2 separate regions of the Homo sapiens genome follow, and region 1 is linked to region 2. The links come from fine-mapping of genetic effects on gene expression. A gene starts in region 2. The other region holds a variant in brackets. All regions are shown on one strand. Distances are from middle to middle.

Evidence for each region. PIP is the estimated chance that this variant, and not a neighbour inherited with it, causes the effect.
Region 1: its variant is the best candidate, but not a certain one, in a credible set for the expression of DENND2C in tibial nerve (GTEx, PIP 0.64).

What each region holds. Positions count from the first base shown.
Region 1 is chr1:114,550,308-114,555,687 of GRCh38, reverse strand. No RefSeq gene overlaps it. Among named protein-coding and RNA genes, the nearest start is that of BCAS2, 29 kb to the left of the region's middle. The variant G/T (reference allele first, on the strand shown) is at 3,230.
Region 2 is chr1:114,666,770-114,672,149 of GRCh38, reverse strand. It overlaps DENND2C (DENN domain containing 2C), which reads left to right and starts at 2,101. Exons shown (of 21, transcript NM_001256404.2): 1 at 2,101-2,167. LOC124904354 (a long non-coding RNA gene) reads right to left here and starts at 1,739. Exons shown (of 2, transcript XR_007066465.1): 1 at 1,500-1,739; 2 at 1,196-1,301. RefSeq lists an enhancer at 1,728-1,887 and a silencer at 2,008-2,097.

The sequences.
Region 1 (5,380 bases), 120 kb after region 2:
TTCCCATGAATTCCCAGCCGAGGTCTTCAAGTTATCAGGTAGGTGAACTCATACCTTTATTTCTGCCCACATTATTCTTCTCTATCTGAATCCAGCCCAAGTCCACTCTCTTCCTCCACGAAGCTTCTATACACATATTATTACACCTTCCTTCTCTGGATTGCAGCCCACAGGCTATGCCACAAAATTCAACCCTTAATTATAAATGATCTCCATCTCCAGTGGGTTTTGTTTGTCCAGTTTTTTTGTTTTGTTTTGTTTCAGTAGCTGTGCAGAGACTAAGCTCCCCAGTAAACCGAAAATTCTTCTAACCAGGCATGGTTGTGCGTGTGTGTAACCCCAGCTACTTGGGAGGCTGAAGTGGGAGGATCGCTTGAGCTCAGGAGTTCAAGGCTGCAGTGAGCTAGGATTGCGCTACTGCACTCCAGCCTAGGTGACAGAGCAAGACTCCATCTCTAAAAACAAACAAAAAACTAAATTAAGAAAGCTCTTCTAGAGTAGGGGTTGTGCCTTTCTTTCCATAGCATCTATCATGTTAATGGGCACATGGTAGACACTGAATAGATTCAAAGGTTTAGAGACAAAAGTGATTTCAGAGATCACTTAGTCCAACCTGATTTTACAGGTGAGTTAACAGAGACTCAGATTAAGTTGTAATCCTACTTTGAACTCCCACATTACTTTGTTTGTACCTCTTTTATGGTATTTATTGCTTTCTGTTTAGTATTTTAATTATCTTCCTACCTGTTTTACCCATCTTTCTCTGTATTTTCATGGGCTATTTCTCTTCTTCTGCCCATTGCTTGAATGCTGGTGTTCCCTAAGGCTCTGTTTTGGATCAGCTAACCTGAGCAATCCATTCCCATAGACTTTAATTACCACCAGTGAAGTGGATGACTCACTAATCTGTATCTTTAGCCATATCTCTCTCCCCAGCAGTATTGCGACTGACAGCTCCACCTGGATGCTCTGCAAGATTCTCGAACTTGACTTGTTGTCCTTGACTCCTCCCTAATCCTTATATCCAACTGGGCACCAAATCCTATTCATTTACTTTGGAAATGGCACACTAATCCTGATCTGTGTATTCACTGCCACCTGTCATGAATTCAGGTCCTCCTCATCTCTGAATCATAGGAATAGTCTCTTCCTTGTTCTCCTTATAAACTTTCTTGTTCTACTAGTTAACCCTCAAAGCTGGTACCAAAGTAATCTTCCCCCAAAATTAATCTAATAAAGCCATTCCTTTGCTTAAAAATCATTGGCTCTTTGTTCCAATTTTTTTTTTTTTTTTTTTTTTGAGACAGAGTATCGTTCTGTTTCCCAGGATGGAGTGCAGTGGCATAATGTCAGCTCACTGCAACCTCTGCCTCCTGGGTTCAAGTGATTCTCCTGCCCCAGCCTCCTGAGTAGCTGAGATTAGAGGCACCTGCCACCAAGCCTGGCTAATTTTTGTATTTTTAGCCTAGACAGGGTTTTGCCATGTGGGCCAAGCTGGTCTCGAACTCCTGACCTCAAGTGATCTGCCTGCCTCAGCCACCCAAAGTGCTGGGATTACATGTGTGAGCCACTGCGCCCAGCCTGTTACCTAAAATTAAAATCTAAACTTCTTACCATGGCATACAAAGTTTTTAAGAGAAAGGCAGATAGTGGCCAGACATGGTGGCTCACACCTGTAATCCCAACACTTTGAGAGGCCAAGGCAGGAGGATCACTTATGCCCAGAAGTTTGAGACCAGCCTGGGCAATATAGTGAGACCCTGTCTCTATTTAAAAAAAATTAAATAAATAAAAGAAAGGCAGATAGTGAACCTAGCAGTGAAGTCAAACTGCCAGGAGTCAAACTGTCATTTAATAGCTATGTGATATCAGACAAGTTTATTTACTTCTCTGTGTCTGTTTTCCAGGTGGAAAATTAGCACAATAATTCTACTGTATCTGATAGGGTTGTTGTAAGAATTACATAAATTATTACACATTAAATGCATAGAACAGTGCCTGGCACATGTTAGATGCTGCTATTATTTCCAAATCTTGTAAATCTCGTCTGCCTGAACCCCTTCCTCAAACCATATTTAAATTTTCAGCCAGACGTGCTCATGCCTGTAATCTCAGGCATTAGAGATTTACACACCTGTAATCTCAACACTTTGGGAGGCCAAGGCAGGCAGATCACTTGAGGTCAGGAGTTTAAAGCTAGCCTGGGCAACGTAGCAAGATCCCGTCTCTACAAAAAAATAAAGTTATCTGGATGTGGGCACGTGCCTGTAGTCCCAGCTACTCAGGAGGCTGAGGCAGGAGGCCAGCTTCAGCCCAGGAGATCAAGGCTGCAGCGAGCTATGATCATGCCACTGCACTCCAGCATGGGCAACAGAGCAAGAATCCACATCTAAAAAAAGAAAAAGAAAAGAAAAAATTTCCTGTTTCTCTACACCCACCATGATGCATCCTTCCATTTTTTACCCATTTTCATGTGCTTTTTTCTTTCCTTGGAATACCTTCCCCACTTTGTTTCTTGATGAATTTATGTTTATCCTTCAAGGAAGAGGTTAAGGATAGTAGGCTCTCTGCAGTCTTCTCCATGATGCAGAGGTATATTCATCTTTATACAAATTTTTTAAGTTGCAGACATTTATCTCAAAATAGAGTAGGCTGGGCATAGTTGCTCACACCTGTAATCACAATACTATGGGAGGCCAAGGCAGGTGGATTGCTTGAGTCCAGGAGTTCAAGAACAGCCTGGGCAACATGGCGAGATCCTGTCTCTACAAAAAATAGAAATATTAGCCAGGCCTGGTGGCATGTGCCGGTAGTCTCACTTACTTGGGAAGCTGAGCTAGGAGGATCACTTAAGCCTGGCAGGTTGGGGCTGCAGTGAGCTGTGAGTGTGCCGCTGTACTGCAGAGACCCTCTCTCAAAAAAAAAAAAAAAAAAAAAAAAAGAGTAACTATTACCAAAAAAAAAAAAAAAAGGATGAAGTTGAGATATATGCTGGTAACAGAAAGATATTTGTGGTAGGCAGTTTCTACAGTGGCTCCCAATTCCTGCCTCCGATATTAACACCGTTGTATCATCTTTTGTGTGTGTGGGCTGGACCTAGTGACTTGCGTCTAACAAGTAGAATATGGCAAAAGTGATAGAGAGTCACTTCTGAGATTAGATGATAAGAGACTGACTTTCACTCTACTCTCACTCTCTGACTCTTGTGTTCCTTCTGATGAAGCAAGCT[G/T]CCATGTTGTGAACTGCCCTATGGAGAAGTCCATGTGGCAAGGAACTGAGGGTGGCCTCCAGCAGACAGCCAGAGCAAAACTGCACTCCGTGGTCCAATGGCCTGGGAGAAGGTGAATTCTGCCAACAACATGAGCAAGCCTGAGTCTACTGCAGTCCCAGGCGACACTTTTTCTTTTCCTTTCCTTTTCTTTTCTTTTCTTTTTTTTTTTTTTTTTTTTGAGACAGTTTCACTCTGTCACCCAGGCTGGAGTAAAGTGGCACAATCTCTGCTCACTGCAATGTACGCCTCCTGGGTTTCAAGCGATTCTCCTGCCTCAGCCTCCTGAATAGCTGGGATTACAGGCACCTGCCACCATGCCTGGCTAATTTTTATTTTTATTTTATTTATTTATTTTTTTTGAGACTGAGTCCCGCTCTGTCGCCCAGGCTGGAGTGCAGTGGTGCGATCTCAGCTCACTGCAACCTCCACCTCCCAGGTTCAAGTGATTCTCATGCCTCAGCCTCCCGAGTAGCTGGGATTCCAGGTGTATGCCACCACGTCCTGCTAATATTTGTATTTTTAGTAGAGACGGGGTTTCACCATGTTGGCCAGGCTGATCTCAAACTCCTGACCTCAAGTGATCCACCCACCTCAGCCTCCCAAAGTGCTGAGATTACAGGCATAAGCTACCGTGCCTGGCCTAATTTTTGTATTTTTAGTAGAGACAGGGTTTCTCCATGTTGGCCAGGGTGGTCTCGAAATCCTGGCCTCAAGTGATCTGCCCACCTCAGCCTCCCCAAAGTGTTGGAATTACAGGCGTGAGCCACCGGCCTGTTTTTTTTTTTTTTGAGCTGGGCTTTCACTCTATCACCCAAGCTGGAATGCAGTGGTGTGATCATAGTTCACTGCAGCCTTAAATTCCTGGGCTCAAGCAATCCTCCTGCTGGGCAACATTTTGACTTGCAGCCTTTTGAGAGATCCTGAAACAGGAGCCCCAACAAAGCCACATCCAGATTCCTGATCCATAGAAACTGTGAGATAATAAATGTTGTTTTAAGCCACCAAGGTTTGGAGCAATTTGTTATGCAGCATTAGATAACAAATAACAATACTATATTGCTAAGTGAAGGAAGTTGCAAAATAGCATATATATATATATACACACACACACACACTGTCGTCGCATTTGCACATAAAAACACAATTACATGTTTTTTCTATATAGTCACATCTCTTTTTACTAATTTTCACGTTAACTAAGAGGTTATTTGCATTTATGTAAGGTACATAGGGTAGACAAACTCATAGAGATAGAAAATGGAATGAGAGTTGCCAGGGGCTGGGGAAATGGGAAATGAGGAGTTGTTTAACAGGTAGAGAAGAGTTTTAATTAGAGACGATGAAAGTTCTTTGGATGGATGGTGCTGATGGTTGCACAACAATATGAATGTATTTAATGCCAGTGAACTGTACACCTAAAAATGTAGAAAATGGTAAATTTTACGTTACGTATATTTTACCATAATTTTTAAAAACCACAAAATGGGGAAAACATTTAAAATGAGACAATCTAATAATTTAAAAGGTTTTTATATATTACATTTTTTAAAAAAGATCCTATTCACCCTTTTTGAACAAATTCTAGTGTCTACATTGCAAAGGTTATCCTCTGACCAACTTAAAACTTAGGGTTTTAAGAGGGATGGTACGCCTGAAAAATCAGCCTTCTTTTCTCAAGTTCACATTCAGCAATGGGCTGGAGTTATCACCAATTACTTGCACTTAGTGAGCAGGCAGACACATAGCTACCATTTCCAGTGCTAGAGGGGAACCAAGGCTTTAAAAAAAACTCTAAGAGAATGGCAAGAGAGCTTCTTGAAAGATCTGATGGTATCTCAACCCTCATCAGGTAAATTCAGCAAAAGTCATCTGACCTCAGGGGGGAACCTGCAGAGCAGGGAAGCTGACCTCTCTATCTGAGTATGCGGCTGTGTCCTCTATGTTTTCAAGCTGTTAAAATTCTTGTGTGTTTACCTACATTAAAGAAACTTGTATTGTTGGCTTGGCTCTGTTGGTGTCTTTTAGTTAATCATACCATCATTGCTTTTTTTTTTTTTTTTTTAAGAAATGGTCTCGCTCTGTCGCCCAGGCTGGAGTGCAGTGGGACAA
Region 2 (5,380 bases):
TGCAGTGGTGTAATCACAGTTCACCGCGGCCTCGGCCTCCCAGGCTCAGGTGATCCTCTTACCTCAGACTTCCGAGTAGCCAGGACTACAGGCACATGCCACCACACCCAGCTACTTTTTTGAACCTTTTGTAGAGACGCGGTTTCACCATGTCACCCCAGCTGGTCTCAAACTCCTATGCTCAAGCGATCCATGTGCCTTGGCCTCCCAAAGTACTGGGATTACAGGCGTGAGCCACTGTGCCCAGCCTGAACTTTCAAATGGAAAAAAAATTGAAAGCAAATTTCTGCACGTTTCTATATTCTACACATGCAGCCATAAGCATAGGTGTAACCCTGATGGCATGTTTGTACTAGCTCTGGTGTAAGAATCTCTTCCTGATTTCTGAAGTTGAAGTTTTGTTTGTTGAGTATTTGTGAACCCTTTAAAGAACCAGATTTTATTTTACCTTGGCCTCCTCATCATCAAAATAGTACAAATTGCTACATTAAACACTGTATTCTCAGACTTCAAAGGGCATTAACTACCATTATGTATATCTCCATCTTACCCATGAGAGGGCAGTAGAATACATACATGTGAATTCATTTATTAATCTATAAATTTGGTTTCATACGTGATACTTGGAATTCAACCTGCCTTATTTTGCCAAATAATCTTCCTGAATGCAGGGGTCAAAAAATACATTTCTGGGCTGGGTGCAGTGGCTCATGTCTGTAATCCCAGCACTTTGGGAGGCTGAGGCAGGAGGACTGCTTGAGCTCGGGAGTTGGAGACCAGCCTGGGCAACATAGCGAGACCCTGTCTCTACAAAAAAATAAAAATAAAAATATTAGCCGGGGGTGGTGGTGCATGCTTATAATACTAGCTGCTTGGGAGGCCGAGGTGGGACGATTCTTTGAGCCTAGGAAGTTGAGACTTCAAGTGAGCTATGATTGGGCCACCGCACTCCAGTGTGAGTGACACAAAGAGACCCTGTCTCAATAAATAAATAGATAGACACATTATATAAGAATTTTTTTTTTTTTGGTGGGGGAAGCCCATAATGATCAGTGTGCAAAATTTACTACAAACAATATCCACATTTATTTCCTCATTGGGACATGATTTTTTTTAAGTATGTCATTACTTTTTTTTCCCCCATCATAGAATGTAATTTCTGTTTTACTGTCTACAGGTGATAGTTTCACAACGGTTTGGGATATGCTACCTTTATTGTTTGGGTTAAGTTTGCTTGTGACAGTCATCCGTGATACGTAACTAAACACCTCTCTTTCTGGTAGTCTTCTATTTTGGTACCTCTGTGTGAACAAATGTAGGAAGAGTTTGGTCACCAGACCCAAGAGGCTCTGGCTGGGTGGGGTGGGGTGGGGTGGGGCGGGGCGAGGCGGGGTGGGGTGGTTAGCGAGTGCCTGGGAAACAGGCTCAACTGATCCTTGTCCCGCAGCCTCGGTGAAACTGGGTTACAGCTTGCAGTAGGCACAACACCACGCACATACCTAAGCAAGAGCGTGTTGCAGGCGGAGCGCTTAGGCATGTGTGTCTCAACAGGGCGTGGGGGCTGACCTCACGCACTGGGAGTATCAAGGCACCCCCGTTCTGAGATTCCAAGCCTGAGGTGCCGCGAGAGTTATTTGCTTCTCTTGACGTTTCAAGTTGGCACCGTAGTGCAATTGTTTGCTCACTGAGGTCAGCCTAGGAAACAGTGCTTGGATTCCCTGATTAAGCCAGGCTTTATCTTGTTGAGTAGTTGTGAAGAGTAAACCTTCACATGAAGCATAGGGCCGTCTCCGTGGGGCCGATGCGACGGCAGGCGAAGGCGATGGAGCTCTGGCTCGAGGGCTTGGCCGGACGACGGTGACACTGGTCGCCCGCCTGCTGGAACTGCAGTGACCGAGGTCCTGGCAAGGTTCTGGCCATACAGCGGACTTGAGGCGTGGTGGTTCCCCTCACCGCCGGCCGGGGCGGTGTCGGAGGCGGGCATAGCGTGAGGGGTGGGAATAGGAGCCAATAAGAACTGAGCCTTGCCAGGGAGGGCGGGGCTAGGGGGTGGGGCTGCAGCCGGGACGGGGCCTTCGGCAGGGCCTGCGGGGGCGGGACGGAGCGGACCCGAGTGATACCCGGGAGACTAGCTTGGCCACAGGAGACAACGTTGAGGTACAGACAGGTAAGAGTCGGGGTGATTCGGCGCGGGGTTTTAAGCCGCAGGGGCTTCGGACTCTCGGGGCTGTCGGCATCACCCTTCTGGGCGTCGGGTGCGGGGCTGTGGCGCCGCGGCGTAGTCCTCGGACGGTGCGAGCCGAGCTGGCGGAGGTGGTGTCTCCGCGCCCCGCTGTCTCGGCACCTCCTCCGTCCGGAGGAGCAACCGGTTGTTGGGCCCAGCTTTGGGACGTCCTCTCGTGGCCGCACGGGTTGTGGCGGAGCCTGGCTGAAGACCTCCTCGCTACCTCAGGGGCTTGGGGACCCCTAGGCTGGGCGCCGCTCTCTGCTGGGGAAGAGGGAGGGAGCGCCCGGCAGCCTGGGGAAACGCGGGCTTTCTCCAAAATTAGCCAGTGAGCTTGAACTTCGACATGCTGGGACGATGCACTTCCAAACAATATTTTGCTTTTTTTGGTGTTTTGATTCTTAACAGCATCTAATACGCACAATACCGAAAGTTGTCAAGTAGAATTTTAATTTAAAAGTCTGACAGTGGAACACCTAAGAGCTTTTGAGTAACTAGAGCTGTATAGCAGCTGATGATTAGATTATGAGTCAAAAGGCTCAAGTCTAGGGCCAGAACCCGCGGAACCAGATGTGATACCTCGGCCAAATTAACTTCCTGGGCCTCTCTTTCCGTAACTGTGAAACTGGCAAGTTCATGCCTATGGGTATTCTCAGGGTCAAATCAGATGAGTGACAGTATTCTACAAATGTCAGATATTTGAACGTGCGTGTGGAGCGTGTATATTCTGTGAAGCAACTACTACTTGCCTGGTACATAGTAGGCACTTTACAAACGTTTACCCTAAAGCTAGTGATTCTTCTGCAGTGTTTTAGATAAAGTGATAGATCCTTGCTTACTGTGTAAATAAGTTGTTTAAACTTTTCCCACAAAGTGACCCCCATTGTTTGAGTGTGTCCTATTTTTAAATGATTGATGAAATTTTCTAGAATAGCACAGTGGTGTTATCTATACACTGTTGCTGAATCATTTACCGCGAAGTCTGTAGCAATCAAATAATCTACTTCTTTGTCTTAGCTAAATAGTTGTAGTTTAAGATACCTGCTAAAGTAAGCTGGGAATATTGTTCCAAATCAAGACTTTAATTTGTTTTTGTGAATTGACGGGCTGCTTATAGGAAGATTTAAATCTTCCAAAATATTGTTAATATATAGCCATATTTTTTCATACAGCCTTTATTATAGACGTTTTTGTTCTTTACTATGGATATGTGTGCGAGGGATTTTAGCGGGGAGATGGGAAATAAAAAAGAAAATGGCAGTTTTGTAACCTGTAGGCTTTTGCTGGGGATACTTGTAGGCCTGTTCTGAGTTTGCCAGGCAGAAACCAGGAAATGTAGTAATTATGTGTCTTGGTCTTTCATTAGTTGGGGTGTGTGTGTGTGTGTGTGTGTGTGTGTGTGTGTTGAATGTGGCAGTACGTTTTTTAAATGCAGCAATAAAGGAAGAATATTTATTTTTCTTAATGACAATAAGCAGTTTTCTAAAGCTGGAAATTATATTACTTTTAAATGGTCTGTAGTGAGTCTTAAGTTATAGGCAAGAATTTTAGACCACTGGATACCAAGATCAAATTAAATGAAGTAGTAGAGGGAAAGTTACTAGTGAATGTAATTTTTGTGTGTGTTGCTTTAGAAGTTTTACTTAAACATGTTTCAGCAATTCAGTGGAGGATGGGTCTTTTGAAGCTACTTTAAAACATGAGTTTTAAACGTACTCCATGTATAAATTTTTCTGTGATTTACAATTTCTTGATCTTGGAGGTCTGAAACCTTACATTCACATTGTTTTTTGAGGGCCTACTACACAATAGGCACAAGATTATATTTATGTAAGAGCAGTATGTAATTCCTGTCATCTAGGAGATTCCATTCTACCAAGTGGGCTAAAATAAGTACTGAAAAAACAAAAGCTGTTTTTAAAGCGGATGGTAACAATAACAACATCAGCTATCATTCATTGGTACCTAGTCTGTGCCAGGCAGTATTCTAAATTCTTTACATGTATTAGCTTACTTAATCCTCACAACAGCACCATGAGGGATGTTATTATGATTATCTCATTAAGAGGCATAGAGAGGTTGAGTAACTTGCCCATGATTAGACAACCTAGATAGCAAAAGTAGGATTCAAATCAGTCATTCTCCAAGGACCTGATTGTAACCTTTGCGCTATACTGAGTTTCAAATTCTGTGAGTGAGATACAAATGACATCTAATAGGTATTTTAAAAAGAGGTCTATAAAAAACTATTTCAAAAAGAAGGAAAGAAAGAGGAAAAAATAAACTGGTATTGCAATACCAGTTTTATTGCAATTAAAACGATGTAATTATAGTTTATCTGTGGGAACCCTTTTTTTGTTATTGTTGCCAGTGAATGACATGGGGATGATTCTAAGCTCTCAGTCCCTCAGTAACAACAGTTATGGCATTATCTTAACAATATGAGGTGCTTATTTTTCATTAAAAAGCACCTCATAACTTCTTTCATTAAGAAGTTAAAAATATCTGTTCTCAGACTGTAAATTAAGTATTAGATTCAAGAAGAGAAAATGCTTCCCTGTCTTTAAGAAGCTTATAACCCAACATGTAAATAAGGCTCTACAATTTCAGCATGATAAGAGCTGTAAAGAAGTATAGATTTAGGTACGTTTGAAGAGTTGCAAGAAAAAGAAAGAAGTATAGATAGAATTTAACCACTGATGAGGAAAAATCATTCTGCGTGTGGTAGGGAGGACGATTAGAGAGAAGATATTAAATTTGGCTTTGAAGGATGAATAGGAGTTTGCTGAAATTGGGTCAGGAAACAGGAGATATGAATGAAAACCAGGGATAAGTGTGCAAGTATATGGTATGTTTGAGGAATGTGTTGTAGTCCATTGTACTGAAGGCCAGGGTGTGTAGAAATGGGTGGTTTGGCTAAAGGAGATGGTGCCTGGAAATAAGATGAAAAAATAAAATTGCAAAGCTTCCTTGCTGATTGCATTAGGATCACTAAAATTGCTAGGTAATGTGGTATTTCACTTCCCTTCATTTGGAACAATGAAATGAGTAATTAGTTCAGTTTGGCAGAATGTTTCACTAAAAAATATGGTGTTAAAGGTACTTTTAATACTTTGAAGTACAAGATATAAGATAACATTACAGACTTAGGTAAGT